4 linked regions of the Homo sapiens genome follow. The protein of the gene in region 2 purifies or fractionates together with the protein of the main gene of each other region. This does not show direct contact. Each region holds a gene or a part of one and is shown on either strand. Other genes may lie near its edges. The genes, in order: NQO2, CENPF, NDE1 and GPC6.

Evidence for each region.
Region 1: the proteins of CENPF (region 2) and NQO2 fractionate together in Homo sapiens (co-fractionation; one large-scale study listed by BioGRID). This does not show direct contact.
Region 3: the proteins of CENPF (region 2) and NDE1 purify together in Homo sapiens (pull-down; one study listed by IntAct). This does not show direct contact.
Region 4: the proteins of CENPF (region 2) and GPC6 purify together in Homo sapiens (co-immunoprecipitation; one large-scale study listed by IntAct). This does not show direct contact.

Annotation. Positions count from the first base shown.
Region 1 is NC_000006.12:3,003,151-3,011,483, reverse strand, and holds part of NQO2 (ribosyldihydronicotinamide dehydrogenase [quinone]), read right to left. Parts: intron 7,816-8,333; exon of another isoform or gene 7,695-7,815; intron 6,990-7,694; exon of another isoform or gene 6,833-6,989; intron 5,017-6,832; 5' UTR 4,932-5,016; coding exon 4,925-4,931; intron 1,460-4,924; coding exon 1,295-1,459; intron 1-1,294. UniProt on the Homo sapiens protein: The enzyme apparently serves as a quinone reductase in connection with conjugation reactions of hydroquinones involved in detoxification pathways as well as in biosynthetic processes such as the vitamin K-dependent gamma-carboxylation of glutamate residues in prothrombin synthesis.
Region 2 is NC_000001.11:214,633,130-214,641,462, reverse strand, and holds part of CENPF (centromere protein F), read right to left. Parts: intron 3,598-8,333; coding exon 3,462-3,597; intron 1,543-3,461; coding exon 1-1,542. UniProt on the Homo sapiens protein: Required for kinetochore function and chromosome segregation in mitosis. Required for kinetochore localization of dynein, LIS1, NDE1 and NDEL1.
Region 3 is NC_000016.10:15,722,846-15,731,287, reverse strand, and holds the end of NDE1 (nuclear distribution protein nudE homolog 1), read right to left. Parts: intron 7,128-8,442; coding exon of another isoform or gene 7,098-7,127; coding exon 7,037-7,097; coding exon of another isoform or gene 6,879-7,036; 3' UTR 6,642-6,878; coding exon of another isoform or gene 6,489-6,641; 3' UTR 6,401-6,488; coding exon of another isoform or gene 6,296-6,400; 3' UTR 4,935-6,295; downstream 1-4,934. Other genes in the region: MYH11 (myosin-11), read left to right, coding at 4,234-4,440, 6,296-6,400, 6,489-6,641, 6,879-7,127. UniProt on the Homo sapiens protein: Required for centrosome duplication and formation and function of the mitotic spindle. Essential for the development of the cerebral cortex.
Region 4 is NC_000013.11:94,402,939-94,410,485, forward strand, and holds the end of GPC6 (glypican-6 precursor), read left to right. Parts: intron 1-76; coding exon 77-279; 3' UTR 280-5,082; downstream 5,083-7,547. UniProt on the Homo sapiens protein: Cell surface proteoglycan that bears heparan sulfate. Putative cell surface coreceptor for growth factors, extracellular matrix proteins, proteases and anti-proteases. Enhances migration and invasion of cancer cells through WNT5A signaling.

The sequences.
Region 1 (8,333 bases), on a different chromosome or scaffold from region 2:
TCATTCTTAGATTTGGTCTTTTGAGGTAATTTTCTATATTTTGTAAGAAATCTCCATACCTTTTTCTTTTTTCTCCTCTGTGTATTTTCAAATCACCTGCCTTTGAGTTCACTGATTTTTTCTTCTGCTTCATCCATTCTGCTGTTGAGAGCCTCTAATGAATTTTTCAGCAAATGTATTTCTAGTTCCAAGATTTCTGTTTGATTTTTTAAAAATTATTTCAATCTCTTTGTAAAATTTAACTGATAAATTTCTGAACTGCTTTTCTGTGTGATCTTGAGGATTACCACATTTCCTTAAAAGTGCTATTCTGAATTCTTGGTCAGAGAGTCCAAACAGTGCCGTCTCGTTAGGTTCAGTCACTGGTTCCTTGCTTTGTCTGTGTGGAGAGGTCATGGTTCCCTGTTTACTGTTGTTTCTTGTGGATGACATCTATTTATTTCAGTCTTCTATGTCTGACTTGTTTTCATTTTTATTACATATATTTGCTTAGAAAGTCTTTGCAACTTTCTTATTAAATTTTTTTTTTTTCCTCTACTAAGCCACCACCTGCTTTTTGGCACTAGATGGTGGTTTATGCCCACGTTTGCCTCAGCTCTAGTAACCTACTGTTCAGAGTGTGCCAGTCCTGAATATGAGAGGTTCCAAAGGGGATAGCATGGTAGTGTGGGAAGGCTGGCTAGCAGCTCATGCCCAGGAAACCTGCAGAATGTACCTCCTACAGTGTGGTGCTGCTGAACAGCCACTCTGGTTTGGCATCTCCTTTGGCTAAGTTACAGATCAGAGTTTCCAGGGCTGGGGACAATATTCCCATCTCCCTCCTTTGTCTCTGGCTGTTGTCAGGGATATTTCTCCCTTTAGGCACTCCTGATGCTTCCTGTGGGTTGAGGCAGGAACAGGTCTCCTTCCTGCCTGTTTCTGGGAACCCCAGAAAATTGAGAAGCTGATTGTCCCCCTTGATCTCTTTTCCAGTGTAGAACCTGTGACTTGGGAGGAAATTTCCCACACAGCTGGTGCTGGGTAGTTTGTGGGGAGGGGTGTCGTGGATATGATAGTCCAATCTCTTACCGTCTGCTTGGAGTTGTTTCACTTATGTGTGGTCTTGGGAACTATTTCATCTTCATATTTGACTTCTGGGATACTGCTGGTGATAATCCCAGTGCTATCTATTTGTTTTTGGAAAGTGAAGCTAGCTTGCTTCTATAATGCCATTTTGCAGCTGGAAGTCAACATTTTTTAAAGTAAAAAACATAAAGATGGTTTTTATAAATAGAGCATTTATCCCATGACTCACCAGTGATATCTTTGTCTGTGGCCCTCGGCTCAAGGTTCATGGCATACAAATCAGACACTGTGACGGTGCAGCCCTGCCTGCTCAGTTCATCTACAGCCACATTCTTCAAGGATCCGTTGAAAGACTTGGGTTCCTGGTGTGCATAGACAATGAGTACTTTCTTACCTAAATCAGGATAAGAAACAGTTCCTCTTGAAGAACAACCTCTCTCTGTTAAATTCAATGAAGACTAAGATGAAAATTGAATGTTCAGGTGCATCATAGTAATTGAAGCTAAGAAATATCAAATTTTCTTTTCTTTCTGTCTCTTTCTCTCTCTTCTTTTTAGACAGTCTCACTCTGTCACCCAGGCTGGAATGCAGTGGCATGATCTCAGCTCACTGCAACCTCTGCCTCCCAGGTTCAAGTGATTCTCATGCCTCAGTCTCCTGACTAGCTGGGACTACAGGTGTGTTTCGTGGGAAGTCAGGGACCCCGAATGGAGCAACTGGCTGAGGCCATGGCAGAAGAATATAAATTGTGAAGATTTCGTGGACATTTATTAGTTCCCCAAATTAATACTTTTGTAATTTCTTATGCCTGTCTTTACTGCAATCTCTGAACGTAAATTGTGAAGATTTCATGGACAGTTATCACTTCCCCAATCAATACCCATGTGATTTCCTATGCTTGTCTTTACTTTAATCTCTTAATCCCATCATCTTCATAAGCTGAGGAGGATGTATATTGCCTCAGGACCCTGTGATGATTGTGTTAACTGCACAAATTGTTTGCAGAGCATGTGTGTTTGAACAATATGAAATCTGGGCACCTTGAAAAAAGAACAGGATAACAGCAATGTTCAGGGAACAAGAGAGATAACCTTAAACTCTCACTGCCGGTGAGCCAGGCGGAACAGAGACATATTTCTCTTCTTTCAAAAGCAAATGGGAGAAATATCGCTGAATTCTTTTTCTCAGCAAGGAACATCCCTGAGAAAGAGAATGCGTCCCTGAGGGTGGGCCTCTGAAATGGCCGCTTCGGGGCGGCAGCTGTCTTTTATGGTCCAGCTGTAGGGATGAAATAAGCCCCAGTCTCCCGTAGCGCTCCCAGGCTTATTAAGACAAGGAAATTCCTGCCTAATAAATTTTGGTCAGATCGGTTGTCTGCTCTCAAACCCTGGCTCCTGATAAGATGTTCTCAATGACAATGGTGCCCAAAACTTCATTAGCAATTTTAATTTCGCCCCGTCCCGTGGTCCTGTGATCTCGCCCTGCCTCCATTTGCTTTGTGATATTCTATTACCTTGTGAAGCATGTGATCTCTGTGACCCACACTCTATTTGTACACTCCCTCCCCTTTGGAAAATCACTAATAAAAACTTGCTGGTTTTACGGCTTGGGGGCATCACGGAACCTGCCGACATGTGATGTCTCCCCTGGACACCCAGCTTTAAAATTTCTCTCTTTTGTACTCTGTCCGTTTATTTCTCAGACCGGCCGACACTTAGGAAATATAGAAAAGAACCTACGTGAAATATTGGGGGTGAATTTCGCCCAATATCTGGCTGAATTTCCCCCGATAGATGTGTGCCACTACGCCCAGCTAATTTTTTGTATTTTTAGTACAGATGGGATTTTGCCATGTTGGCCAGGCTGGTCTTGAACTCCTGGCCTCAAGTGATCCACCCGCCTTGGCCTCCCAAAGTGCTGGGATTACAGGCATGAGCCACCGCACTTGGCCAGAAACACCAAACTTTCTTTTCTTTCCTTTTTTCTTTTTCTTTTTTTTTTTTTTTGAAACAGAGTTTCGCTCTTGTTGCCCAGGCTGGAGCAACGATCCCAGCTCACTGCAACCTCTGCCTCCCGGGTTCAAGCAATTCTCCTACCTCAGCCTCCTGAGTAGCTGGGATTACAGGCATGCGCCACCACGCCCGGATAATTTTTTGTATTTTTAGTTAAGACCGGGTTTCTCCATGTTGGTCAAGCTGGTCTCGAACTCCCGACCTCAGGTGATCTGCCCACCTTGGCCTCCCAGAGTGCTGGGATTACTGGTATGAGCCACAGCACCTGGCCCCAGAAATACCAAACTTTCTAATAGGTGGCAGTTTTAAAGCAATGGGCATTTTAAAAATCCAGTTATTCATAGCTCAACATCACAATACAATGGGTCAAATTATATCTCCTCAAAAATACCACCACTAAATCTTTTAAAAGCCCAACCTAATTTGGTTATCCTCTGTAAGAAGGTTTAGACCAGCTCCCTAACACCAAAATAAAGAACTGCTGGAATTAGTCTTCCATGCTAACCCTACATTTGCAGATATCAGCTACAGGCACCTTTCAGTGTGGCACAGTTCTGCTTCCATCTCCCCCAGTCCATCAAATCTGACACTTAAACAAAACATGAGGAATCAGACCCGCTGGTCTCATGGGAAGGCAGGGCCACATGGAGCCCATCTTTCAGTGGTGATGCTGATAACAAAGAGGACTCTAGGAAGAGTCAGGCCCTCCTGGCACTGGCAGTATCGTTCACACCAGGGGCTTCTGAAGCAGTATTTTCCTCATTGGAAAGAGTCTCCAGGCTTATATACTGACTTCGTCTGGGAGGCAGCCTGGTGATTTGCTTAATTAAATTTACCCTGGTCACCTTTAAGAAGATGTTAAACTCTTGATTTAAATTTTTCATAATGACACTTTAAGGAAAAGATACACGTATCAGTTTGAAGCAATGGGTTTCAGGGCATTGAGCTGGCTACAAAGGTTGAATTCCATAAGTTAGATTCATGGTTAACATTTTAATTTTACTTTCTCAGACTCTTGTTTCAATAAAGGAACTATACTTAGGGGCTTAACAGGAGAATAGATGCAAATGAAATACCTACACCAATGGTTCTCAACTGGGGCAGTGTTGTGCCTGCTAGGGGACGTTTCTCAATGCCTGGAGACATTTTGGTTTGTCACAGCCGGTGGGGGAGGGGTGCTACTGGCATCTGGTGGGCAGAGGCCAGGGATGGTGCTAGGTGCTAAACAGGGTGCACAGGATGACCCCCCAAAACATAGGATTATCTGGCCCAGAATGTCAGTGGTGCCAAGGGCGAAAATCCGAATCTACACCATAATGTATAGAGTAAGGTGAACCTGTGCGTTCTAACACGAAAGGCTCTCCATGTTATATCGTTAGGTGAAATTAAAAAGTTGAGAGATTGCATGTTCATGTATATGTGCATGATAAGCAGTTGCAAAAGCAAAGATAGAATCGTACTGAATTTTTACCCAAGATGCCTCCTGGGGTTCATTCACTTGAGCCCCTGCTACAGCCCAGGGAGAATTTCAGGGCCTGGAGGCACAGCAAAGACAGGATAGGCAGGGCCCCACTTTTGAGGAACCTAAATTCTGGAGGGAGTCGAAAGGAACAATGAAACAAGTGAGAACATAGAAAACAAGATAATTCCAGATAGTTTATACACTTCCACGTGGCTTGGATTTTTTACAACAATGTATCCAATTTCTGATTAAGAGTCTAACTCCCACCTGGAAGGTCAATGTGGGAGGGTCACTTGAGCTCAGGAGTTTGAGACCAGCCTGGGCAATACAACAAAATCCCATCTCAAAAAAAAAAAAGTCTTACTCCACAATAGTGAATCATTACCTGCCATAGCGTAAGAAGGTGGATTCCTTCTCTCTGATTTGATGGGTGGCTGGGGCTTTCCTGCGTAGTCTCTCTTCAGCGAGTCCAGCAATCTGGAAGACAAAACGAACCCAGAGGGGGTGGGGAGAGGCATAGGTGAGGTCGAATGTACCACATCTAGGCATCACTGCTGCTTCCTGACAGACACGCAAACACATCAGAGAAAGACCTCTCAAGAGAGGCCAGGAATCTTCTGGAGATTTAGGCCTCAGAGGACAAGCCACGCAGGATGTCAAAACCCATACTTTTTTCCTTTTTTGAGAGGACTCTGAACCTTCCATCCAGACAGTCATACAGCAAAGGACCCAGGAAATGAGCCACGGTAGGAAGCAGGAGTTGAGCCTCCTTGGCCTTCCTGCCTTCCCCAGTTTTCCCCGTAGATCGAGCAGAAGGCTGGGGGATCAGTGAACCGCCACACCACCAATGGGTGCGTGCACTCCTCGGCTGGTGCCAGACTCTGGTGGGCCAGCACTGGCAGTTGTCGGCCCTTCCCCTCACTTGAAAATAATGGGAGTTGGCTTAGACCCAGGCTCTAACCAGAAGTCTCAGAGATTCTCCAGGGATGCAGCGGAGGCCAGAGGAGCAGAGGAGACCCCCGCATCAGACAGACTTGGTGCAATTTCCAGCTCTGCCCATTGTAGCTGTGGGCCCTGCAGCACATCCCTCCACCCCTCTGTGCCTCAACCTCCTCATCAACAAAGTCACAGCATGGCCCAGAAGAGTGAGAGAGAGACAGTTGCTATGTGCGGTGGCTGGCACACAATGGGGCTCTGGAAAAACGTGAGTTCTCCCCAGGGGAGCCTTTGGCCTCACCCCCTCCTGGCCATCTCTGAAATTCTGGCTTCCTTCTGGGAGATACAAGGAGACTCCAACAAACCCACTCTCCCTACCATAAAAAAACAGCTCAGATAAAACTTAACAACAACAAAGCAAACAACTCAATGCAAAAATGGGCAGAAGGCTTGTGTAGGCTTTTCTCCAAAGATGTATGAATGGTCAGTAAGCCATGAAAAGATGCTTAGCATCACTAATCATTAGGGAAATGCAAATCAAAACCACAATGAGATCCCATATCACACGCATTAGAATGGCTACTACTACCAAAAAACAAAACACACGTAGGTGAGGATGCGGAGAAGTTGGAACCCCGTGCACCGCTGGGGAAAGGTCGAGTGCTGCCGCTGCTGGAGAGGTGCTGTGCCCCCAAAAATTACAATTAGAAAAATGAGAATTAACATATGACTCAGCAATTCCATTCGTTACTCTGAACCCAAAAAACTGAAAGCAGGGTCTTGAAAACCACTTGCCCACCCATGTTCAAAGCAGCATTTTCCACAACAGCTAAAACATGGAAGCAACCCAAGTGTCTATCAGTACATGAATGAAAACAGCCAGAAAATTCTACCCTTAAAAGTGGCTAAAATGAGGTCAGGCACCGTGGCTCACACCTGTAATCCCAGCACTTTGGGAGGCTGAGGCAGGTGGATTACCTGAGGTCAGGAGTCCGAGACCAGCCTGGCCAACATGGCGAAACTCCGTCTCTACTAAAAATACAAAAATTAGCCGGGCGTGGTGGTGTGCACCTGTAATCCCAGCTACTCGGGAGGCTGAGACAGAGCGAGACTCTGTCCAAAAACACAAAAAACAAACAAACAAAAAAAGTGGTTAAAATGGTCAATTTTATGTGAGATGTTCTGTACCACAGTAGGAAAAAATGGGATAAAAAAACAATGCAGAGAGTGTGACTAGGGCTTAGTGTGAAGACACGCATCGCGCATGTTGTGTCCAAACGACAACGTGAACCTATCAGTGTGTCTTTACAGCAAAACAAAAAGCACAGAGACACACAAAAGTGGTGCTTATCCCCACCAGGACTGGAATCTTGAGCAGGGCCTGAATGAGCATCTTCCAGGGCCCACTCCTTATCTCCAGCTGTCCAGGAGCACAGGCACAGGGCTGGGGTCTGCAGAATACTGCAAGAAGTGAGGTGGGTGCTGAGGAGTGGGCTCCACCCAGGCCAGGTGCCCTGTGGATGGAAAGGAAAAGAGGCTACATCATTGTGGCTGAAGCTGAGTTGGGGGCAGGCATGGGACTTAACAGAGTGGGGCACTGTCACTCCCCAAGAGGGCAGACAGCTCTGATCACTCCAAACACCCAAAGGTGACTTCAAATCCTTCCCCATTCGCTTGACTTCACTGGACAGCTGGGAACCTGCATCTTTAGTGACTGAATATCCCCACTCTGGTTCCCCAAGGACAGACCCTGAATTGATTCCAGGAATCCACGTGTACAGGTAAGCACTACATTTCCTAGGCTGCCTTGCAGTTGAGATGGCCAGTGAGGTGTCAGCAGAAGTCACAGGCGGGGCTTCCAAGAAATACCCTCAAGAAGCGAACTCAGCTGGGGCTGGGAGGTGTGGGAGCTAGCTCCCTCTGGCTTTGTCGCTGGCTCTCTTCCCAGCTGGACTGTGGGATGATGTTAGGGCTCAGTCAGCCTTCTTGTCGTCCTGGGGATGGAGGCTATGCACCAAGGGCAGGGAGCAGAAATACCAAAGGAACCTGGATTCCCGGGGCTCTCTTGGGGCTGCAAGATGGTGGTGGATTGGCAACTGCAGATATTTGTGTTTATGTATTTTCCATGCAGAAACATCTACAATGGCACTGAGTCTGTAGCGAGGGCCATGCACTGTCTGTCTGAAAGTGCTCCAGGCACAGGCTTTGTGTCCAAGTACCTTGCTGTGTTTAAGGTACATCACAGCACCGGAGAATGTGGGAGAGGTCACATTCATCCCTTCAAAGCGCAGGGAGGTTCCTATTCTGACACCAGCAACACTTACAAGAATGAACCTAAAGCTGGGCAGTGAGGAAGGAAAGGAAAAAGAAAGTTTATGAATACAGGTAGTATTGTTTGAACCGGTAAGTTGCACTATAAATCACAATAAAAGATAGTCTGTATATCACTAAAACAGAAGAGTTGGCCGCCCTGAGGATGAGGCCTTTGGGTCTCCAGGCATTTGCCAGCTCTCCTAGCCTAGGGGCAGGGGCGCCTGCACAGCCCTCTGCTTTTCCTAGAATTCTCAGCAGCGAGCATGTGTCAGGGAGAGACATGGTTGTCTTAGCACTGAGGCTGAAATCCTGGATGTTCTTGGGAGGGCAGTGATTGTGAAGAACAAGTTACTTGTCTAGTTCCTGGGGGTCACTCCTCAAAGCCTCCCGATGAGGCAAGTTTACAGGATCCATGCTCCCTGAGCCAGCAGTGACACCCACACTTGGCAGTGAGAAGTGGGGCTGTAACTTACAGGGTGAGCCAAAATGGCGGGTCTGGAAAGGGATTATCTTAAAGGAAAAAGAGAGGAGAGTGAGTGACTTCA
Region 2 (8,333 bases):
TTTGACTAAGATCCTCATATGCATTTCCGGTTTCTTCACATCTTTGTAGTAAAATAAGTTTTTCTTGCTTGTACTGATCAGATAACTCTGAAATGCTTTTCTCCCTTTCATCTATATAGTTTGCAAAACTCTCACTTTTCTGGATTAAGTTCATCTTCTCTTGATTTAAGGATGCATTAATTTCCTTAAGAGTCCCATTCTCTTGGGTCAGCTCTTCAATTTCCCTTTTATTTAGAGAAATGATGGAACTCATTTCTTTCTTCTCCAAGCTTAGGGTTTCGGATAAAAGTTGTAGCTCCTTTAGAGAGTCTTCAAGTAGATGGTTGCTCTTTTTTAATTCTTGAATCTCTGCCTGCTCAGTTTCTACCTTATCATTTAAAAGTTGCAGCTCTTTTTCCTTGTTCTCAAGGGCACTTAAGGTTTCAGCAACAACATTCTGGTGAGCAGAAGTGTCTTCCTGTAACTTACTAATGCGCTGACTTGTTTCAGCCACAAAACTTTGATGCATCTGTTCTGCTTTCATGAGATTTTCTTCTATTTCTCCTTTGATTTGCACCAACTCTTCACACTGCTTTTGCAGGTCTGAGTTCATCTGTTTTTGAGACTCTAATGAAAATTCAAGTGAATCAACTCTATTTTGTAGGATGGCAGAATTTTTCGGACTTTGGTCTGCTTCTAAACGACATTCACTCCTCTCTGAAGGCATGCTTCCTTGTTCTCCAATTATATTTGCAAAGGAATGATGCATGGCAGGCTGCTGATCAAAAGCCAAAAGACTTCTCTGATGATCTTCATTTGTCACCAGAGAAGCATCTTTGGATTTTAGCAGATCCCTGAGGCTCTCATATTCGGCATGCAAGTCTTGGTAACACCGGTCTTTGTCCATTATTTCATTTGACAGTAACTGAAGCTTGTGTTCTAGATCTTCAACTTGCCCAGTAAGCTGAGAAGTCTTCAAACACATATTTTCTATTTCCTTCTGATGTTTCTGATCTGAGAACTCAGCTTTCTGCTGTAGCTCCATATAAGCTAGTTTCTGGGTCTCTACCTCCACTGACTTACTGTCTAACACGTTGTGAAGGTTTCTGATCTCGACACTTAGGTTTTCTCTGTCCATCTCCAGCGTTCTTACTCTCTCGTTGTATTCATGACTTTTTATTTGCTGTGTCTTCAGACAAGTTTCCAAGTGATTAATTTTACTCTGCAAGTTTTCCTTTTCTGATTCCATCTGAGTTAAAAGTTTTTCGTTTTCACTTTTCCAACAAGAAAACAGAGTTTTCTCTTCTTTCAATTCTTCATATTCTTTCTTTTTTAACTCTAAAGCACTCAGCAAGGCTTTGGACTCTTTCTCTGTCTTGCTTAACTTATCATTAAGTTGTTCAATGTGATGTTCTCTTTTCTTCAAAAGGTCTTGAGAACAATCTCGCTGCTTTTCCAGATCAGCCACAGCAAGCTTCAGTTTTTCTAAAGTCAAGGAGTTTTCTTGCTGATTTATTTTTTCTTGAAGATCTCTTAACATGGTTTCCTGAGAGGTATTCTTCGCTATTTAAAAATAAATAAAAGTCGTCAATGTTTGTAATAAATGTTTATTCTACAGAAACGCTAACCCCTCCCCCCGCCCCCTGGCAAAATCCAAACAAACTAACAACTACTCAAGCCCTGGAAAAACTGGCATTATTGCCTGGGTACCTCCTAGAAAGTGGATCACTTGGTAATTATCTTATATAAAAATGAGAAAAATGGTTATCTTAAGGAGAGTAACACATTTGTTCATCTTCTTTCTAGCAGCTTAAGAACATGTTATTGAATAAAATACCAAGGGATGATTTTCCTAAGCACTGTTTCTTTTCTTTGTATGTGTTTACATATGTGTATATTTTTACCATCTTTTCAAATATTTATTCCAAGAGAGAAAACTGGGACAAGAACAGCACTGAAATGGGAACATCCCACTTTATTGTAGAGTAATTCTGATGTCTCAGAAAAGTAAATAAGTACTCCACCATTTTAGCTAAAACATCCACAGGATTAGACTTAAGTAGAAAAGAGTAAATGATGCCATATATCAGTAATTCTCAAGGCCTATATGTGAATATTCCTGAGGAACATTATCACCCCCATCCCAGCCCCTCATAGTAAGGGTGGCAGTGTCTATGAATGTCACAGTCATTTGGAAGCTTCTTCAAACTCCGTTACCCCCTGTCTTCTGCCTAATGACTCATCTATACATACTGGCCCCTCCTGGTTGGGAATAACCACGATGTTTTCATTAAACAGTGATAAGAAGGCTTCATGTTGCTCAAGTATGTTGGGGGAGATTGAAAGTTGAGAACCTCCACAGTAGATGATAAAGGTAACATGTATTACAATCTCAGACATCATATCAAGTGGAAAGCAGTACGAACTTCTAAGCTGTCAATCTCAATCTACCTACTTATAGTTAAGGGCTTATGTAGACAGCACCACAAGGGCTTCATCCCACTTTGCTGTGAGCAACTCAAACAATCACCTGGGTGATCAACACTGAAAAATGCCCCAACTGTTCCTTTTCTTACAGTTTCCCTTCAAGAAAGCTGAAAACTGACATTTCTATCTGCTGCTGTGGAAAAACTAAAAGCTGTCTTGGGAAGATTGGGTTTTTGTTTTGTTTTATTTTTTTGAGATGGAGTCTCGCTCTGTCGCCCTGGCTGGAGTGCAGTGGCGCAATCTCCGCCTCCTGGGTTCATGCCATTCTCCTGCCTCAGCCTCCAGAGTAGCTGGGACTACAGGCACCCGCCACCACACCAAGATTGGGGTTTTAAAAAAATAGTCACAGAGAAGTGTGACACACATTCCACAGGACAGAGTTCAAAGAAATTCTAGATATGCAAACACCCCAGGTGAGAAAATAAAGGGTATGTAGAAGACATCCGGCACAAACATACAAATATGAAACCAAGAGTGGATTCATTTGATGTGTAGAGCAGAATTCTTTGGCTTTAAAATAAGAAAATAAAATCATTCAGTCAAGTAAGTCATCAAAAAACAATGGTCATTAGGAGCTTGGAAAACATGCATTTAATATAGGGTTTTTCCATTATAAGGGAAATGGTAATGAGTCAGGAGATGAGCTGTCTGGATGTAACTAACAAGCACACTAGAGACACAGAGAATAGCACTCGGGGGTGAGAGACAGCACTGACAATTTAGCTTTGTGTGGAAAATATTTACCCTTCTGATTTCAAAGTGCTGAGCATCAGGCGTTTGGGACTCAATATGTTCCAATTAAAAAAAGTCCCACTCTCACTCTGGAAACTAAAAACTAGAAGAGGGAAAACTCTTCCACATCAACTGCGCACATCTTTTTGAGGGAATATATGAAAAAAAATCCAAAGAGTTTCTCTAATATGTTAATGCCATCCATCCCCTCTCACGGGAATAGCAGCTTAGAAAGGTAACTCTAAAATACTAAGTTTACTTACCTTTCATTTCTTCTGCAAAATTCTGGCTCTGATTTAAACACTGTTTGATGTTCTTGAGTTCTGCCTCCAGGTGGCAGACTTCTCTGGCCTTTTGCTCAGAGTGACTCTTAAGGAGGTTGTTTTCCTTCTTCATTTCCTAAAACACACATTTTAATTGGTTATAGCCAAAACGAATGCTCAAGTAAGTTATGACTTCTGCCTTAATAAAGGTCCCTAGCAGAACTGTTTGTGTATCTCACTAGGGAAAGAATCACAATTTCCCCGTTTGAGTACCTAATGAAGTCAGACATTCTTACTTAAATAATGTTATGAACAGAAGACAACAGCATCAAACCCAAATCTGAAGATAATTTTTTCTTTCAAGAAGTTTCATTGAACTTTCTCATTGTTCATACGCCTATTAAAGAGTAAGCTCAAAAGGAAAATCCTATCTACAAGATCCTCAAGACAAAACCTCCAAGTTCCTATCACACCTGAATGGCCAAATATACCTTTGCAAACATTTGATTTGTTAATAAACCAAAAAAAAAAAAAAATCTCAGCACATATGTTTACTTTTCATTGCAAAACCATCTTAAGGTTTGCTGTTACAGGAATGATTCTGTGGGAAAAATTACCTTCAATAAATGCTTATCAAGAAAACCAACAATATTCAAGATGCTGGAATGTGCATTACAAAAAATGCAAATATAAATAAGACAGAGTCTCTGCCCTTGGGGCAGACATCCTCCAGTGGGGGAAGATGTGATACTAATCATTTAATACACAATAGGATATGCTAAATACTAAAGAGACATTGAGTGTGCTATGGGAAATCAGAGGGCTGGAACACAGAGGAAGAATTAATTCTAGCTTCTGAGCTTTCACAGTGAAAACAGGTTCTTTGGGCATCTGATTGAAGAGACATCCACGCAACAGCATGCAATAAAGTAACACAGGTACATGTGTAGTTCCATTCTACTACTAGGGAGGCCTATATGTTCTGAATCTTAAAAGCAAGCAATATTTACATGCCAAAGAAAAACTTTTTTGCTTATTAACCACATAAGACTCACATAACAAACAAGTATCTCAACCTATACTGTATGCCACCCTTTGGACCACAGGGAATTGGCATAAATCATTACAAGCTAAGAGAACCAAGCACCTCACATCCTCAAGCGGGGAAAAATCATATAAAGCTAACTTTTTTCTAAACTGCATTTCAAACCTACCAAAATTACCCCTTTGTGAAGTAGAGGAAAAATTCTGAATCTTAAAGAAACAATTAAGACCCATCCTCCAAAACCCTACTGCACTGTTAGAAAACAGATGGCCGTGGCAATACTGTGTTGGAAGGCTGCCTTCAATTATCAGTCTGGTTACTACCAGCAGATGGGTACCGATGTAGCAAAGCCAAATTCAAGAAGAGGGAGAATCTGGCTAGTAGAAAGTACTTGAAAACTTGCTGGCAGCTGCTCCGTTCATGTATATGCGTTCATTTCATCATTAAAATAAGACAGAACCTGTTGTAGTTATTATACTCCCATCTACCGTGTCCTGATCCTGCTTCCCTGCTGCTAAACTGACACTCTATCGAATTAAGATATCAATCAGAACTAAAGGGCAGCTCCAACCGATCTCAAGATTGATAGGCTAACATTCACACTAGTCAGTGTTAAACTTTGCAAAGCACGATCATTAAGGTGCAACAATGTTATTGATTTAAATTAGCATCATTAAATTATGGAACGTATAATGACTGGTTTGTTCTTCAGACTCAGAATAATCACCCCTCAAATGAGATCACAGATGTGAAAGGACAAACATCTTAAAGCACTTTGACAGGGGCAATGTAGCATTATTAGTAGTATTTCCTCCCAAAATTTAACAGTAGCCAGATCTCTGTAATCAATGCTAAGATCAGCTGAATGAGGTCAACATAGAAGAGGAACTAGAATGTAATTACCTGGGTCGACTTAGCATTTTTATTTTGCAAATGAAAAAATATTTTCTTACTCTAAAAAAAAAATTTTTTAATCAAATCAAATGACACCTGCATCTGGAGGCTTGACAAGAAAGCTGGAAAGACACTGTGCAAAACTAGGTGCGTCCCAATAGGAAGGAAGGAAAAAAGAAGAGAGAGAGGGCACCAGGGAAAGATGGGGAATTTTATGTTTATGTGTTTGTTGGTCTCGATCCATGTCTGTCCATAACTGGAGACATTTAAATGAATAGTAAGCTCAATGGAAAGATTAACATGACTTTCTCTATTCTGGCATTAGCTCCGTAAATATTTGTGTCTAACGAAGAAATGTTCAGCCAATCCTGGGACCCAGCAGGCTTATAATGCTATGGCTATGACCAACCCAAGAATTTTAAAAGGCCAGAATTTAGAAAATGAACATCTGAAAATGGATGTGCAAGCTGCCATCCATCAGCAATTAGTTTTCCACGAGGCTACAGCCACTTAAGACTTGATTGGGTATCTCATTATCAACAATGAGTTAAGCATACAAAGATACATTTTCCTAGGCATCTCCTGCATCCTCACATGATTTGCAAAATTGGGTACTATGCTGGAAAAGCACAACAAAAATCCCTATAACCACAAGCCAGCATTAGAGCTTAGCAAGCAATTCCACCCAGATCAACTTCGCTTTAGGAGCAGCAAGGGAGGCATCATTTCCTAGGGCCAGACAAAACAAATTTCAGCTACTGTGTGGCATTTCATGATCCCATCCATGAATATAGCTTAATACGTCCCCTGCTGGGCGAAGCCTATATACTTGGATAAGGGATGGATGCAAAGAATGTGTTTTTCCCTTTCCTCCTCATCTCTCTTGCTTGCCAGAGCCAGCTCCTTAGAGGACCTAGTGTAATACAGATCCCTATGCTTGGAAAGGTCCCCAGGCAAGTGTTCCCTCATCTTGACTGTCAAACGATGGTATTTTATTGCCTAACCCCAATGCTATGGGGCTGGCACTGGATAGTGGACGAGCAGCTTATCTAAACCCTCCATTCACTTTGATACTAAATGTTAACTTTACCCTTGATTGGGCCATTAAATCACATTTCCAGTACTGATAATTTCTCATTGTGAGCAGCATGTTTACTAAACACAGACAAGGAAAATTTCAGTACAACTGTCACATTATTTCGGCATCCAAAACCTATAAGCGTCCTAAATTTGTTAGTGCTTACATATAATTAGACACAGAAAGATACCCAGAGTGACACAGTAATAGAACAGGCAAAATTATAAATATGAGAAATCTCAAGTGCACTGTCCCCTGATCACACTTTCTGTGCCTGTAGGTGACAGCAAACAATGCTAACATCAAAAGGTCATGGCAGTGATGAAGACCAAGGCAATGGGCAGGTGTTGGACTGCAATAACTGACTGAGCACTTATGTGCTGGGCACTGGGCTAAGCACTTTACATACAATATTTAACTTAACCAAGAATACAGCCTTGAAAAGGCAGGAGAATGATTTGTCCCTATATGCAGATGAGGAAAGTCAGACTGAGAAAGGGTAAGCCACTGTCTAAAGGTCACATTGTGGTAGGTGGCAGAAAAGCAACACAATCTCAGATCTCACTCACTCTAAAGCCACTACCATTTTCCCACTAAGTTACACCACCACTCTAACTGGGTTCATCAGTTATCTGGTCCCAATCCCAATGCAAAACACAAGAGCCAGCCAAACTCTTTGAAATCTTGCTATCACCCTCAAAAGATGACACATACATAAACATAACCATAAATTAAGACAAATATTAACTTCATCCCCAGGCCCGGTGCTAGACACTTTCACACAGATGCCCTCATTTGACACAGACATCAATGATATACCAGTGAAATGTGATGCATGCACCTCAGTACAGGCTGGGATTAACTGAGGACAGCGCTACAGCTCACGGACCAGACCTCGTGGGGATGAACAAGTCTTCAGAAACACCTGCAAGACAATGTCCAGCCCACTACTGCGACTTGGCCAAGCAAGCAGTTTTTAAAGTGTTTGGACTCTCTTAACCAGATGATTGCTTTTACAAAATGTTTCCACCAGGCAGCCAGTGGAGTCGCGGGAGAGTTCCTGGCTGAAAGGGAAGCTCACAGAGGGAAGAGTTCGATGCCAGTCTGCCTGTGGAAATGTTAGCAGAAGCATCTGTTGGTTGGTCCCCACTGGCCAAAAGGCAAACATTTGTTTTGCTGAAACAAACACTTCCATTTGAAAACGTTTGCTGATGAAACTATCATCTGATTTGAAGTTTTCTTCCACTTTGTGGCTGGAGCTGCAGCCCCCTATCTCCAGCAGTATTGCCCCTTTGGGGTTAGCTGATTTAACAATCACCTGTCTGCTACTGACAGATGTTCTGATTTTACCATCATGATACACTCTGCAAAGCGGTGGGGATAAATACATTTAGACTTTCCTCACCTGAACAAATAACTGTTCTTTATGGACAAAGTTTTCTTAATCTTTACAGCCTAAAAAGTGATCATAGAACATTTAAAGAATAAACAGAAAAACATTCTTTCCTGTGGGGTTTGATGGAGAAGAAATTTCTACCATTCTTGTGTTGTTCCTCTTCTTAAAATTACAATGTTGATTTATGGCTCTCTTCAAATTGTTTCAGTCTATTAACTGTCACTGAATGGTTCTTAATTAAGCCCTTTAAAATAAAATCCAGGCCACTAAATAAATTCAGAGAGAAGCCAAATTGAAGTATGTATGCATAAAATCCCATCAGGGCATCCATGCCATTCAGGAACCCTCATCCACCACTTTGTGGACAAAACAAAGTCTCCAAAGACACCGTCAACCAGGGCATGCACAGGCTGAACATTAAGGTCAGTGTCCACTTTTGAAGCCAGAGTCATATAATTG
Region 3 (8,442 bases), on a different chromosome or scaffold from region 2:
TTCTGGCCTCTACAGGACTGAAGGCCTATAGGATGGGTGGGGCCTATCAATATACTGCCCTTCAGGGATAAGCAAAGGTGTAACAACACTTTCGGGGAGATTTAAATGAAACTTAAAACTGGGATCATTCTATCCACTTTAATTTCTCTGCAGACTGGAGGAAGGCCAGGCATGGCGGCTCATGCCTCCCGTAATCCTAACACTTTGGGAGGCCAAGGAGGGAGGATTGCTTGAGCCCAGGACTTTCAGATCGCCTGGGCAACATAGCGATTTTTCTTTTGTAAAAAAAAAAAAGACTGGAGGAAACTTGTCATTATTTGATTTCAATGGCAGAACAGCTCTCTCCGGCATAATTTGAGAATGACTAGGTCAAATCACTCTCCCGTTGTTGGAACTCTTTGCGGTGTATGGGAGTGGGAGCTGGTAAATAGCAGTACCGAATGCTGAATCTTGGGTGCTCTTCTCTCCTTTGGGGTAGTGCCTGTGCTTCATTCCCCAGGGTAAGTTTTTTAGCTTGCGACCTTCGGCCAGATTGTTTTCCTGAAAGCCTGAGTTACATTACCCTCAGCGTTGCAGCTCCTCCACATCCCCTTCAGTGGAAGCTTTTGGTTCTGCTAGATTAAGTGGGTGCAGCATTGCCTAAAAATTTTGGGGAATTTGCATTTGGTTCTATCACTAGTGTATTGGTCCGTTGTTGCACTGCTCTACAGAAATACCCAAGATTGGATTATTTGTTTATTTTTTGAGCAGTGGAGTCTTACTCTGTCACTCAGGCTGGAGTTCAGTGGCGTGATCTTGGCTCACTGCAACCTCCACCTCCTGGGTTCAAATGATTCTCCTGCCTCAGCCTCCCAAGTAGCTGGGACTACAGGCACACACCACCATGCCCGGCTAATTTTTTTTTTTTTTTTTTTTTTTAGTAGAGATGGGGTTTTGCCATGTTGGCCAGGCTGATCTCGAACTCCTGACCTCAGGTGATCCACCTGCCTTGGCCTCCCAAAGTGCTGAGATGACAGGTGTGAGCCACTGCACCACCCTGAGATTGGGTAATTTCTAAAGAAGAGAGGTTTAATTGGCTCACGGTTCTGCAGGCTGTACAGAAAGCATAGCAGCTTCTGCTTCTGGGGAGGCCTCAGGAAACTTACCATCATGGTGGAAGGCAACGGGGAGGCAGGCATGTTTTACATGACCAGAGCAGGCAGAAGAGAGAGAATGGGGAGCTGCCAGACACTTTTAAACAACCAGATCTCATGAGGGCAGCACCAAAGGGATAGTGCTAAACCATTAGAAACTGCCCCCAAAGGCCGGGCGCGGTGGCTCATGCTTATAATCCCAGCACTTTGGGAGGCTGAGATAGGCGGATCACCAAGTCAGGAGTTCAAGACTAGCCTGACCAACATAGTGAAACCCCATCTCTACTAAAAATACATAAAATTAGGCTGGGTGCAGTGGCTCACGCCTGTAATCCCAGCACTTTGGGAGCCCGAGGCAGGCAGATCACCTGAGGTCAGGAGTTTGAGACCAGTCTGGCCAACATGGCAAAACCCCGTCTCTACTAAAAATACAAAAATTAGCTGGACGTGGTGGCGGTCGCCTGTAATCCCAGCTACTTGGGAGGCTGAGACATGAAAATCACTTGAACCCAGGAGGTAAAGGTTGCAGTGAGCCAAGATTGTGCCACTGCACCCCAGCCTGGGCAACAGAGTGAGACTCAGTTTCAAAAAAAAAAAAAAAAAATTATGGTTGGAAGAGTGAGGCCCCAGACAGAATCACTGACCCTCCCCATGCTTGGGGTTCATTAGACGTGAACAGGAGCTAGAAGCCAAGCCCATTCCCAGCCAGGCCTCTTTGGGAAGACGCAGTTATTAAGACCACCAGCAGACGGCATGTCCATTACTGACCCGCACAAAGCAGGTAGAGGTGCAAACCTCTGCCCATCTCAGGTGCAGGGAAACAGAGGCCTTTGCCTCTAACAACTTGAATTCTGATGTAGAGACCTGGTTCCATCTGCTTGTGGGGGAAACGTTTAACATCAGCTCCTACCTGGGCTCCCCAGGCCCTCGTGCGGTTTGGCCCCAGTTCTGGGGTCTTAGGCTGGGCTAAGGTTTCTGGGAGCCCATGTCCCCTAGGGTCCCCGCTTCACTGCTTTGTTACCACCAAGAGACTCCCTGTCCCCATCTGAGGTCTGGCAGCTCTTAGTCATGTCTTGGAGGGAGGACGGGCATCCAGGGCTGACCGGTCAACGTCCAGCACCTCCCAGGGACTATGGGAAGACTGAGTGGTGGGTCTCGTCCTCTCGGGATACTTGCGCTTCTCTTTCCCCTTCTCTACAACCTGGAAAGAAGCCCCTCACCGCGTCCTACTTTTGCCCAACACGCTTTTTTTTTTGAGACAAAGTCTCACTCTGTCGCCCAGGCTGGAGTGCACTGGCGGGATCTCGGCTCACTGCAACCCCCGCCTCCTGGGTTCAGGCAATTCTCCTGCTTCAGCCTCCTCAGCAGCTGGGATTACAGGTGACTGCCACCATGCCCGGCTAATTTTTATATTTTTAGTAGAGACGGGGTTTCACCATGTTGGCCAGGCTGGTCTCAAACTCCTGACCTCAAGTGACCTGCCTGCATAGGCCTCCCAAAGTGCTGGGATTCTAGGCCTGAGCCACCGCGCCTGGCCCCAACACACTTTTTTTTTCCTGTAGGGCAACTCACATGCCTACAGGAGCTGGTTCCATAAAATAAGTTTCCCTTAACTAGGACAGAAGTAGCAGTGTCAATCACACGACACCTGTGAAGGACGGGGGCGGTGAAAGGTGACTGCCCCACCTGCAGAGCCAGCCGCTACTTAGATGTGGCAGATTGTTGCCTTGAAGGAAAGCAAGACCCTCTGTTTCCAGATCTTTCGTTGTTGTTGGTTTTTTGTTTTTGTTTTTAAGTTTAGGATTACTGAGGCATATGTAGTAAAATTTATCCATTTTACTGCTCCATTAATTTTAACAAATGTGTATTGTGTAACTACCACCACCACAGTCACCACATAGAATGTTAGTTATTGATTGATTGATTGAGATGGAGTCTCACTCTGTTACCCAGGCTGGAATGCAGTGGCATGATCTTGGTTCACTGCAACCTCCACCTCCCAGGTTCAAGCAATACTTGTGCCTTAGCCACCCCAGTAGCTGGGACTACAGGCGTGCGCCACCATGCCCGGCTAATTTTTCCATTTTTAGTAGAGATGCAGTTTCGCCATGTTGGCCAGGCTGGTCTCGAACTCCTCACCTCAAGTGATCCACCTGCCTTGGCCTCCCAAAGCTACTTATTTCTGAAACAGGGTCTCACTTTGTTGCCCAGGCTGGAGTGCAGTGGTGTGATCATAGCTCACTGCAGCCTCCAATTCCTGGGCTCAAGCAAGCCTGCCATCCGCCTCCTGAGTAGCTGGGATTGCTGGTGTGTGCCCCCCACACCCAGCTAATGTTTTATTTTAGTAGAGATGGGGGTCTCACTACATTGCCCAGGCTGGTCTTGTACTCCTGGCCTTAAGCGATCCTTCTGCCTGCTTCCCAAAGTGCTGGGGATGACAAGTATGAGCTGCCATGGCATGCCTTCAAACATTAAAGTTTTTTGAAAAAGAAGCTGGGAATCCAGATTTTTATGTGACATTTATTAAAATGTCGGCAACTCATTTTTTTAAAAGTAGTGAAAGGGTCAAAGGGGACATGTCAGCAGGTTGGATACCGCTTGTGGGATTCCAGATTGCAACCCATGAGCTTTAGGAAAATAGAATCCAAAATATCAGCTGGGTGCGGCAGCTCACGCCTGTAATCCCAGCACTTAGGGAGGCCAAGATGGGTGGATCACTTGAGGTCAGGAGTTCGAGAGCAGCCTGGCTAACATGGTGAAACCTCGTCTCTACTAAAAATACAAAAATTAGTCGGGCATGGTGGCGGGCGCCTGTAATCCCAGCTACTTGGGCAGCTGAGGCAGGAGAATAGTTTGAACCTGGGAGGCGGAGGTTGCAGTGAGCCAAGATTGTGCCACGGCACTCCAGCCTGGGTAACAGAGTTAAGACTCCATCTCAAAAAAAAAATAACAACAAAAAAACCCCAAATCTCTTACTGGTGATTGTGTGCCCCCTGTTGTGTGCCTTCCTGGACCTCTCTGAGGGAGGAAAGGGCAGGGCCTGAAACGTTCTCCCGGCCACAGCCTCCCTGTTATCCCTCCCCTCTGCTTCCTTCGCCAGGCCAAGGCGAACCTAGACAAGAATAAGCAGACGCTGGAGAAAGAGAACGCAGACCTGGCCGGGGAGCTGCGGGTCCTGGGCCAGGCCAAGCAGGAGGTGGAACATAAGAAGAAGAAGCTGGAGGCGCAGGTGCAGGAGCTGCAGTCCAAGTGCAGCGATGGGGAGCGGGCCCGGGCGGAGCTCAATGACAAAGTCCACAAGCTGCAGGTGAGGAGGTGGCGCGGTGGTGTGGTGGGCAGTGCTGGGTGGTGCCCAGTTCTGTGGGGAGGAGCCTCTTCCCGGCTCGCTGAGGTCTCTCTTGCTGCAAGGCAAGTCCTTTCCTCTAGTTGCGTTCCTGGAGGAGAGGCGATGATCTCCCTGTTCAATTAAATATTAAAAAAACCTTCTGGCCAGGCACGGTGGCTCATGCCTGTAATCCCAGCACTTTGGGAGACAGAGGTGGGTGGATCACCTGAGGTCAGGGGTTTGAGACCAGTCTGGCCAACATGGTGAAAAGTCTCTACTAAAAATACAAAAATTAGCCAGGCGTGGTCGTGGGCACCTGTAGTCCCATCTACTCGGGAGGCTGAGGCAGGAGAATAGCTTGAACCCAGGAGGCAGAGGTTGCAGTGTGCGGAGACCGCACCATTGTACTCCAGCCTGGGCTAAAAGGGCAAAACTCTGTCTCAGGAAAAAAAAAAAAAAAGAAAAAAAACCCTTCCTTTTCCAATTTGATAAGTATTTATTGAGCACCTGCTGTATGCCAGGCACTGTGCTTAATCCTGAGATCCAACAGCAAGGAAGAAGAGACACTGTCGCTGCCCCAGTAGGACTCCAGCCGAGTAAGGGGAAGGGAAGGGAAGGGAAAGACATGAATAATCACACAAATGAATGTCAAATGATGCAGCAAAGGGAAGGCACATGATGCCCAAGTGTAAATAACCAGGGGGCCTAACCTGGGGGAGGAGGAGCCACGAAAGGCTTCCCTAAGGAGCATGGATAAGTCTACCAGGCAGAGGGAACAGCGTGTGCAAAGGCCCTGTGGTAAGTAGAAAAATTAGGAGAGAGACATACAGCCAGTAGAGCTGGAGTGCCCAGCTGGGGTTGGGGGTAGGGGGAGATAGTACAGAGTGGGGTTGGAGGGGGAGCTTGTACCCAGATGATGTAGGGCTTTTGAGAACCTATTACATGTATGTTGATCCTTACTCTGGGCAATGTGAAGCTGTTGAGGGGTTTTAAGCTGCTGAATGACATGGTCTTTTTGTCTTTGGTCTTCTTTCACTTGGCATAGCCATTTACCCTGCCTTGCCACTCATGGGGACGTGGCCAAAGTTTTCACAAATGTTTAACATGTCCACAGCCAGGGACCAAGGGGCGAGGGAAGAATTAAGTGAGATGTTTTTTTCTCACATGCAGTTGAGAGCAGGGCTTTTGCCGCCCTCATATAAGCAGTGTCAAGATCATTCATATCCTCCTTGTCAATGGAAGAGATGGAGGGGTAGGCTAACAGCCTCAAAGGGACTTATGCAGAGACACTAGGGAGTAAAAGCCAGAGAATACAGAGAGGACGTTTTTACCTTTAGGGCCTGCGTCTCTGGCTTTGGCCATCAGGGTCAAAGAGTAGGAGTGAGGAAGGAAGGGATGGGACAGCATCCCTGGGACGTTCAAGTACCATCCTGGTCTCCCTTCTCCAGCCTTAGAGAGTGGACCAGCCAGAGCACCTCGTCTGGACTCTCAGACCTGCTGCTTTGTCTCTACCAACCTTGGCAGGGATCTAGGATCCATTTAGTGGGATCAGGTCCCAGTCAATACCATTGGGGCTCAAATAAGTTCTTAGAACCACAGAGTCTAGGGCCAGGGTCCCAACTCATAGGTGACGGAGTTCCCTTCAAGCCACAGATTCTGTTTTTTTTGTGTGTGTGTGTGTTTTTTTTTTTTTTTATCAGAGTCCCATACCTCACGGGTATTTTCTCAATCAGTGAACACCTCAAGTACTAGCCCATGTGTTTTGAGTAAAAAGGGCTCCTTTCAACGAGGATCCCCTTCTAGAGGCTTTGACTAACCAGTCTCTTGGCACCCTTAGAATGAAGTTGAGAGCGTCACAGGGATGCTTAACGAGGCCGAGGGGAAGGCCATTAAGCTGGCCAAGGACGTGGCGTCCCTCAGTTCCCAGCTCCAGGACACCCAGGTGAGTGTCCTGCCACATCATCCAGGGGACCTGGGGGGTGGCCTTCCTCGGGGCAGGTCCCTGGGACCTCTTTGCATCCCTTTTGCAGGAGCTGCTTCAAGAAGAAACCCGGCAGAAGCTCAACGTGTCTACGAAGCTGCGCCAGCTGGAGGAGGAGCGGAACAGCCTGCAAGACCAGCTGGACGAGGAGATGGAGGCCAAGCAGAACCTGGAGCGCCACATCTCCACTCTCAACATCCAGGTGCCTGCCCCGTGTCCTTGCTTCCTTCATGGGTCCTCTCAACTTCTCTGCGCTGAGATCCCCCGCAGGCAGATCGCGGTGGAGTGTTGGTGCGATGGTGCTTGACCCCCCAGCTTCCCCTGCTATTGGGTTTCTCCAACGAGGAGACATGGTCTTCGCTTCTCAGAGTCTGTGGGGCCAGGGACAGGGGCCACTCATGGTCCCCCTCTCACCCTACCCTGGACGCTGTCCTTGTAGCTCTCCGACTCGAAGAAGAAGCTGCAGGACTTTGCCAGCACCGTGGAAGCTCTGGAAGAGGGGAAGAAGAGGTTCCAGAAGGAGATCGAGAACCTCACCCAGCAGTACGAGGAGAAGGCGGCCGCTTATGATAAACTGGAAAAGACCAAGAACAGGCTTCAGCAGGAGCTGGACGACCTGGTTGTTGATTTGGACAACCAGCGGCAACTCGTGTCCAACCTGGAAAAGAAGCAGAGGAAATTTGATCAGGTAGAGGGCGTGGGGTGTCCCCCACTCTGGCCATGGACGCTGGGTTGGGGAATCAGCTCTGCAGAGTATGACGCGTGGCTCTGGCCTGTGCCTGCATCCCCTCTCCACTCTGTGGGGAGCCATGGGAGGCTGTCTTATCTTGTCTTGGGCGACCATGGAGCATTAACGCTACCAGGTCACAGTAAGGATGGCAAAGAAGCCTTGATGACTGTGACTTTTCTGGGTACCAGCACCATGAGGGTCACCTGCACACATGGTGATGCCTTAGTTTCTAGCCTGAAGAAGGAATGAGGTGCTTATTTATTCACTAAATGTATTTACTGAATACCTATTGAGTAGTATTCCAAGTAATTCAGTTTCTATACTTTTAATACCACTCTTCCCTAAGATTTCATTCTGTAAAATTCCAAGTACACAGCAAAGTTGACAGAATTGTACGGTGAACACCTTTAAGGCCACCACCTGGATTCAGTCATTGACACTGTATTATATGAACTTTATCAGATACTTATTTTGAGACAGGATCTAGCTCTGTCACCCAGGCTGGAGTGCAGTGGTGTGATCTCAGCTCCCCGCAACCTCCACCACTGGGTTCAAGCGATTCTCCTGCTTCAGCCTTTCATGTAGCCGGGATTATAGGAGCACACCACTATGTCTGGCTAATTTTTGTATTTTTAGTAGAGATGGGGTTTTGCCATGTTGTCCAGGCTGGTCTCCAACTCCTGGCCTCACATGATCTGCCTGCCTTGGCCTCCCAAAGTGCTGGGATTATAGGTATGAGCCACTATGCCCGGCCCACATATTTATTTATAAAGACTAATTCTATCTATCATGCCTTATCTCTTGGGTACATTTCAGAGCAAATTACAGATGTCAGTACATTTCCCCTTCCACACCTCAACATTGCATATTAATTAGAGTTTATTTTTAAACACAATTTTGCTTCTTTTGGGGTAAAACTTACATGTGATGAGATTCACAAATCTTAATTGTACGATAAATGGAGACCCCTGTATGACCCAAACCCCTAAATACCAACTTTTAAGATACATTATTATTTAGTAAATATGATTTAGTTTACAAGTGACTCAGGGTTATTCTAAAAATCAGTTTGAGAGGCCAGGCACGGTGGCTCACGCCTGTAATCCTAGCACTTTGGGAGGCTGAGGCAGGTGGATCACTTGAGGTCAGGGGTTTGAGACCAGCCTGGCCAACATCGTGCAACTTTGTCTCTACTAAAAATACCAAAATTAGCCGGGCGTGGTGGCGCACGCCTGTAATCCCTGCTACTCTGGAAGCTGAGGCAGGAGAATCG
Region 4 (7,547 bases), on a different chromosome or scaffold from region 2:
AGATGAGATTTGGGTGGGGCCACAAAGCCTAAACATATCAGTGGTCTAACTTTCTTTTTCAATCTTTCCACACTAGGTGATGAATCCAGTGGCTCAGGGAGTGGCAGTGGGTGCATGGATGACGTGTGTCCCACGGAGTTTGAGTTTGTCACCACAGAGGCCCCCGCAGTGGATCCCGACCGGAGAGAGGTGGACTCTTCTGCAGCCCAGCGTGGCCACTCCCTGCTCTCCTGGTCTCTCACCTGCATTGTCCTGGCACTGCAGAGACTGTGCAGATAATCTTGGGTTTTTGGTCAGATGAAACTGCATTTTAGCTATCTGAATGGCCAACTCACTTCTTTTCTTACACTCTTGGACAATGGACCATGCCACAAAAACTTACCGTTTTCTATGAGAAGAGAGCAGTAATGCAATCTGCCTCCCTTTTTGTTTTCCCAAAGAGTACCGGGTGCCAGACTGAACTGCTTCCTCTTTCCTTCAGCTATCTGTGGGGACCTTGTTTATTCTAGAGAGAATTCTTACTCAAATTTTTCGTACCAGGAGATTTTCTTACCTTCATTTGCTTTTATGCTGCAGAAGTAAAGGAATCTCACGTTGTGAGGGTTTTTTTTTTCTCATTTAAAATAAAAAAGGAAGAAAGAAAATAATTTTCCTTGTAAAATCGGGCCAAACCCCAAGACAGCTACATTTTCAACAAAAAAGCAAACAGAGAAAAATAAATGAACTTTAACACTGTAAGTTCAGCATTGACAGCCAACTTCCAGTGTAAGCTTTTTTGTGACAAATCCGGGTTTAAAAATGCTTATGGGGAGAAAGCTTAAAGTTTGTTCTAAATGTAGTGAAAATGCACTGTTGTCTTGGAGGTATCATCTTGCACTCTAACCAAACAACACCAAATTAATCTGGAGGTACTGATACTAAATTTGGAATCCCGTCTTTAATATGAGAACACAAATTACTACAACTCAGTACCTCTGTCTTACTCTGCCCAATTTCAATTTAGTAATGGCACCATTATTCTTAATTCCCTTAATGTCTGTCCGCTGTATCCAATTGGCACAGATTTTCCCCTTCATCTTCAATTACTAGTAGCTACCCCCATCAATTCACCTTCCTCAAGAGTCTCAATTGAAAATAATCTTTGATGATACAATCTCTGCTTTTGCCACAGGTTTGACATTAACTAGACGTTTCTGCCCCTGTGCTCATTACCCTCCCAAAACAATAGTTTTTTTAATGAATTGAAACACAATTAGATCCATTCCTGAGTTTTCATTTTTAACTATTTACTTTGTGTCAGTTGGTTTCTGCATCACAAGGGCATTCTCTTACAAAACAACTCACAACAGAAAAAAAAAGTCAAGACAAAAAATATATATATATAGTATTGACATGGAGATTTCTTTCACTTTTTTAGTCTTAGTATGATCATCTATTTTTATATCTATGTATATATAAATCACAGATTTTAACTTCTTAATTCCAAGCTCAGGGTTGACACACCTTTGTAAGAAAATGTTTTGTCAACCAGCTCTTCTTGTTTTGTGCTGCTCAAAGAAGGGATTCCTCAGTGATCGGTGAGCACCAAGAATCAAGAAAGAGAACTTTTTATGTATCTAACTGTCCATTTATTAAAAATTTGCCAGGGCACACCCTTCTGCATGAGTGTGCTTCAGCCTGGGTGCTCCAGACTACACCAAACTCATGGGATGAGCCATTGGTGTGCAGGGCTTTACCGGTGATGGAAACTGTATGTGTAAAGAATGTTATTCATGAAAAACCATTGCTTTCATGTAAAACACCTTCGGCCTAGGATTCCTGCCTGGCACTTGGATACATTACCTAACTCAATAGGCCAGTTTAGAGCCACAGCCTAACCTGTTCACCAAGTAGGCCAAAGCCAGGCCTTTCGCTCCCCCTGACAGAGAGAAGCAAAATAAACCCAACTGGGGGCTTTATGAATACAGTTGGCTATCCATATGTTTCTTAGTTTTTATGATGCATCTGGAGTAGGGAAAAGTAATGTTTCAAGACACCATAGTAGGCCAGTTACATTTTAATTAACTCATCGACAGTATTGACACGTAAATGGTATTTTTCAATCTGTTCTCATCAAAATTAAAATTAGTTATTGATTTAGTCATCACATTTAAGTAGAACACATGTGGCACAATAGTATTAAGTATATTTGAGCACTTTTGCAAGACAGAAAGTATTTACAAGCATCTATTGCTACTTTATGCCTAATGAAATATAAAATGTAGGATGATGAGAGACTTTGTGGCATTCTTTCATTTAAACCTTTATGAAATTAACCATCTAGTTCATCATTACATACTCCTAGAAAACCATCCATTTCACTGCCCACATTTTGGCTTCCTACCACAAATTCCACATAAGACTTCTCTATGAAGGACCAGTCATTTACATTGCTCATTTCATTCTGTGTTCAGAAGTCAGTATTGTCTTTCTCCAATAATTAAGGTGCAATACAAATTAAATCAACCTTGATTTTCCAGACTATTTGAATAATAACTTGCTTTTATGGCTTTAAACTCCAGGTCTTTCCTTTTTAAAATATTTCTGCATTCTCTTTTATGAACTAGATCAGGATGCCTTGTTTTTCCTGTGCTTTCACCCCCAAAAGGTTTTGTGCATGTGTATGAATACACATAATATTAGTGAATGTGAACCCATGTTCTATACGCACTAAACACACAGTTAATATATAAACGCCTGCTTCATTTGTTTCAACACCTTCATTATCAATATGATTCATATTGATGAGATATAGTGATGCATAATGAGCCAGGCAGAGAGCTGAAATGATATCAGTTAATGATGTCACAGTGTTAGCACCCTGCATGGATGTGGTCAAAATATCATTCAAGTTGTACTTCCTAGTTTTTATCATCATACTACTATGTCATATGATTTTCAGACTAATTTAACATGAGAAATGTTTTGGCCCTAAAGGATTTCACTTAACCTAGTTACCCTATTTCAGTAAGTATTTTGGAATTCAACCCTCGAATTATTTTTTCTCATTTCAGCATAGTGATAGGGGATGCAATGAGGCTTCATTATTTTTTATGACCTGCCCCTCATTTGCTCTGATGTTCCCTAAATTCTGTAATCATATCATAACTTTTGTTATGAATAGAGAGGAATGGGCTCACTGAAACCTGACACTAGAAATTGGTGGGTGATGCTCATAACTGCAAACACTTAGCTTATTGAAGTGCCTCTATTTACATGTTCTTTAGTTATAATATGTATTTTTCTAACAGAAATACACGTCTGTAATTGGTATATATTATACTTTGTATGTGTCACAACAAAAGCTAAACAGAGGCTAAAGTCTTTAGCAGAGAAGAATGAATTACAAATTTACCAATAAGAGCTCTGTTTATGGTTCTGTATTGAAGGACAACCATGACAACCTTCTGTCATTTTCACGAAGGCCAAGTTGGTACTTTGATTATAGCCATCGTAGAACATTAGCACTAGAAATCTGTCTCCCTTACAATGACTTACCTAGCTAGCATCAAGTAACTTGTATCACCTGCTTTAAATGTAAGGGATAGAAAATACTATTTTGTCTACACTGAAAAACATTATTATTCATTGATAAGTAGTAATAATTATAAAAGTAACATTCTTTAAAGCAAACACATTGAAAATATTATTACAGGCAGAACCCTGATTTTTAATTTATATTCCCTGCTGCAGACATTAGCCTTCTTTAATTCTTTTGCCATTACATACATGTTTCGGCTACAGACTGAACACGAACTAAAGTCCCTAAGGAGGAAAAAACCTTAACATATTCCTGAGATGTGATTCTTTTATTACTTCTTTTTGCAAAGCTAATTATCAAATGATTTGATTAAACCTAGACGCATTAGGAAATGCAAGTTTTACCTAAAACTTGCAGAAATTTAAACACATTTCCATTTACTTACTAACGAACAGACCTGATTTTTATTTAAAAACACAATTTAGCTTTGCCAACAGAAGAGTAAAGGAAACCATAACTTATAAATTTGTAATGTGTTCCTCCTTGTTGGAGACATTAGCCAGTGTTTAGTTTTAGACCAACTTATACAAAGAGAGTATTGATTTGTACACATTCTGGAGACTTGCTATATCATGGTTTGCTATGGCACAGACTCAGCTTAGCATGGGGACATTTTGAACTTCATTCAAAGTTGAGTAGTTACTGGAACCTTTGACATTGCCTTGTAATGAGGTACTTCCAAAAAAAGACCCCTAACAATGGCATAATAGTGAGGTCTCTCTGTGCATATACATAATATATATGCAGGATAAATGTGTGCACCAATCAAATCTAAAATTTTATGTGACTGTCAAATGAATATTATTTGGGTTAAGATTTTTCATTTCTGATTTGGATAGAAAATTGCTATTAATCTTGTATTAAAATAGTTTTTAAAAATCTACCAGTGCCCTTTCTGCATTTTCTTAATTATTGTCATAGTCTAAATTTCAGAGCCATGGAATTTTTTGTGTTTGAGACATTTTTAGAAGCTTCAATATTAAAAAACAACAACAAACCTCGTATATTAAAACAGTGCCACTCTCCTAAGTACACTCAGCATCTGAAATCAGGAACTATTTGAACTTTAGAACATTTAGAGCTTCCCAAATGTGTATGGAAAATACTGTAGCGCTGTTCTTTTGTACTGATTTCTTCTCAGAGGATAAATTTAGTGACTTGAAAACTGATGTCAATACTTTATAAATGAGGTCAGAAAATAAGATCAAATGTGAAAAGACTAATAATTTCCCAATTTAGCCAATTGCATTGATTTTTATACTTCTGAAATGTTTCCATCCTCTCAGGCATGCTAAATATTGTATAACCTGCTAAAGATTTATTTCACAAATGCTTATTGAACTCTTATTCTCTATAAACCCTGCTCTAGGGGATTTATCACTGGCTGTGAAAAACCACCAGTTGAAAATTATTCATTCCTTAATGCAGCTAATCATAATTATTACAGATAAATAATGTATTTCAAGAATGATCTTATAAATAAAGGAACCCATACAAACAAAGGTACCAAGAATACAGCATTTAACTGTAAGAAATACTGTGATTTAGCTCACATTATTACTATTTTGGTTTTTATTGAGAAAAGTGACTATTACAAAACAATTAAGGAATGTTAGAATAATTCCATCTATAAGATCAAAATATAACAAATTTTATTTGGAAGCAACAGAAACCAATTTATTGGGCAGGAAAAACATCCAAGTGTTTTTCATCCAAATGAAACCAGACACTTTTATCAGGTAACAACAATATTTATTTTAATTTGCTCTTTGGATAAGTGGACAGGGATATAGTTAAAGTATATGCACAAATGTGGTAACAGAATTACATTGATTTAAAAAATCCAACTTGTAAAACAGTGGCAATGAGGGATAAAGTGTTTTTGTATCTTGAGAGCTAGAAACATGCAGGCACAAATTTAAGTCTGTTTAAATAGACGTTGACAACTGACTTAGTGCAGACACATTTCCATTCCATAGACATATTTCTTTGCTGGTGTAAACATGTGGCCAAACATATTTTGCTGGCTCATAAATAGGGCATGCAACAAAGCCAGGAGGAATTAGATGCCTGCCTTTATAGCCTGCTTAAGGAGCGCAAGCTCATGTATACCTTGAAGCATAAAGCAAAACGAGAAATTGGGAAAATGGGACTTTTACCCTGTGAATGCTCAAGTTTGGAGAGAAGGTGAAAGAAGGATTACAAACTGGATTCAAGAGAGCAGAAGAATATTTACCTTGACTAAAGCCACCTTCCCTTTAATAAGAACAAGCATCTGTGGATTTTTTTAATTAAAACAAAATTACTGACCTCAGCAATTATTCACTTTTTCAAAAGATATATAATGAGAAATCATCCCATGCCAAACAGTTCTGGGTGCAAGAGCAAGACACTAAAATTTCCGCCCTCTCCCTTTAGTGAGGAAGAGACAGACAACATGTAAGCCAATAAATGAACACGAAGATTCAGAAAGTGAAAGGCGCCATGAAGGAATGAAACAGGAAATGGGATAGCGACCAGGAAGGAAACTCTCCTTTAGGTTAGTGGTCCAGGAGAGCCTGGGGTGATGGAGCTGTGATGAATGACAGGGAAAGAGACAACCATGAGCAGAGCCGGGGATAGAAATTTCCAAGCAGAGAAAGTGCAAATGCAGAGATCTCAGTTCAGGAATGACCTGTACTTCAGCGTGACTGCAGTGAGGTGCTGAGCGGTGAGATGACTGAAGAGCTGACTTTGGGAATTATCCACTTTTTTTCAAAAGATAGATAATGAGAAATTATCGCATGCCAAACATGGTCCTGGGTGCAAGAGCAAGACGCTAAAATTGGGGCAGCCATGTTAAGCCTAATGGCCAAAGCTATGGTCTTATCCCCTGGTGAAGCCAGAACCCTCGTGGGACACAGCAGCCCTGCTGGTCGCACTCACTAACATTTTTTTTTTGCGGGGGGTGGGTGGGGCAGACGGAGTCTCGTTCTGCTGGAGTCTCTCGCTCTGTCGCCCAGGCTGGAGTGCAGTGGCGCCATCTTGGCTCACTGCAACCTCCGTCTCTGGGGTTCAAGCGATTCTCCTGCCTCTCAGCCTCCCGAATAGCTGGGATTACGGGCGCCTGCCACCACGCCCGGCTAATTTTTTGTATTTTTAGTAGAGACGGAGTTTCACCATGTTGGCCAGGCTGGTCTCGAATTCCTGTCGTCGTGATCCGCCCGCCTCAACCTCCCAAAGTGCTGGGATTACAGGCGTGAGCCACCATGCCCAGCCATATTTCATCTTTATAGCATCTCTATGATATAAACATAATAATGCCCATTTTATACTGAATAAAATGAGACACAGTGAAATTAATAACTCACCCAATCACACTAAGAAGGTCATGATATGAACCCTGATCTGTAAGAACTGGACAGAAAAATGAAGGTATTAATATATAAGTTTGTTTTTGTTGTTACAAATTCAATTATCCAAGCGTGCTCTGAGTATTGACAACAATTGTGCAAATTGGCAACAAGTGTGAAAACAGGAATCCACAGATTTCTATCAGCATAAAGGATATATGTGAAATTTTAATTCTGAGATGGAGTTGCTTCGTGTCTTAAATTTTTTTCAAAATTAAAATCCTAAGTAAATAAATGACTGGGGACTCTGGGTTCTTATTATGTAGTTTTGAACTTGCAGCCACCTTGAAACAAAGCATGATCCCTAAGACAGAAACACGCATCAAGCCTGCTTCCCCTTGTTTGTCAACTCGGCTTAGACACCATATTCACAGGAAGCAAATTAGATATCAAATTCACAGGGCTTAGCCCAACTCCCAGTGACTCTCCCGTATATTAGCCGTCTGTAATTTAACTCTTCTGATGGTCAAGTGGACCTAAAATATAAATCAAAACAGCTCAACAATTACCCAACTCAGATAACTAGTTTGGCAGCTTTGAAAACTACACTGACTGTTAAAACATCTTATAAAGTA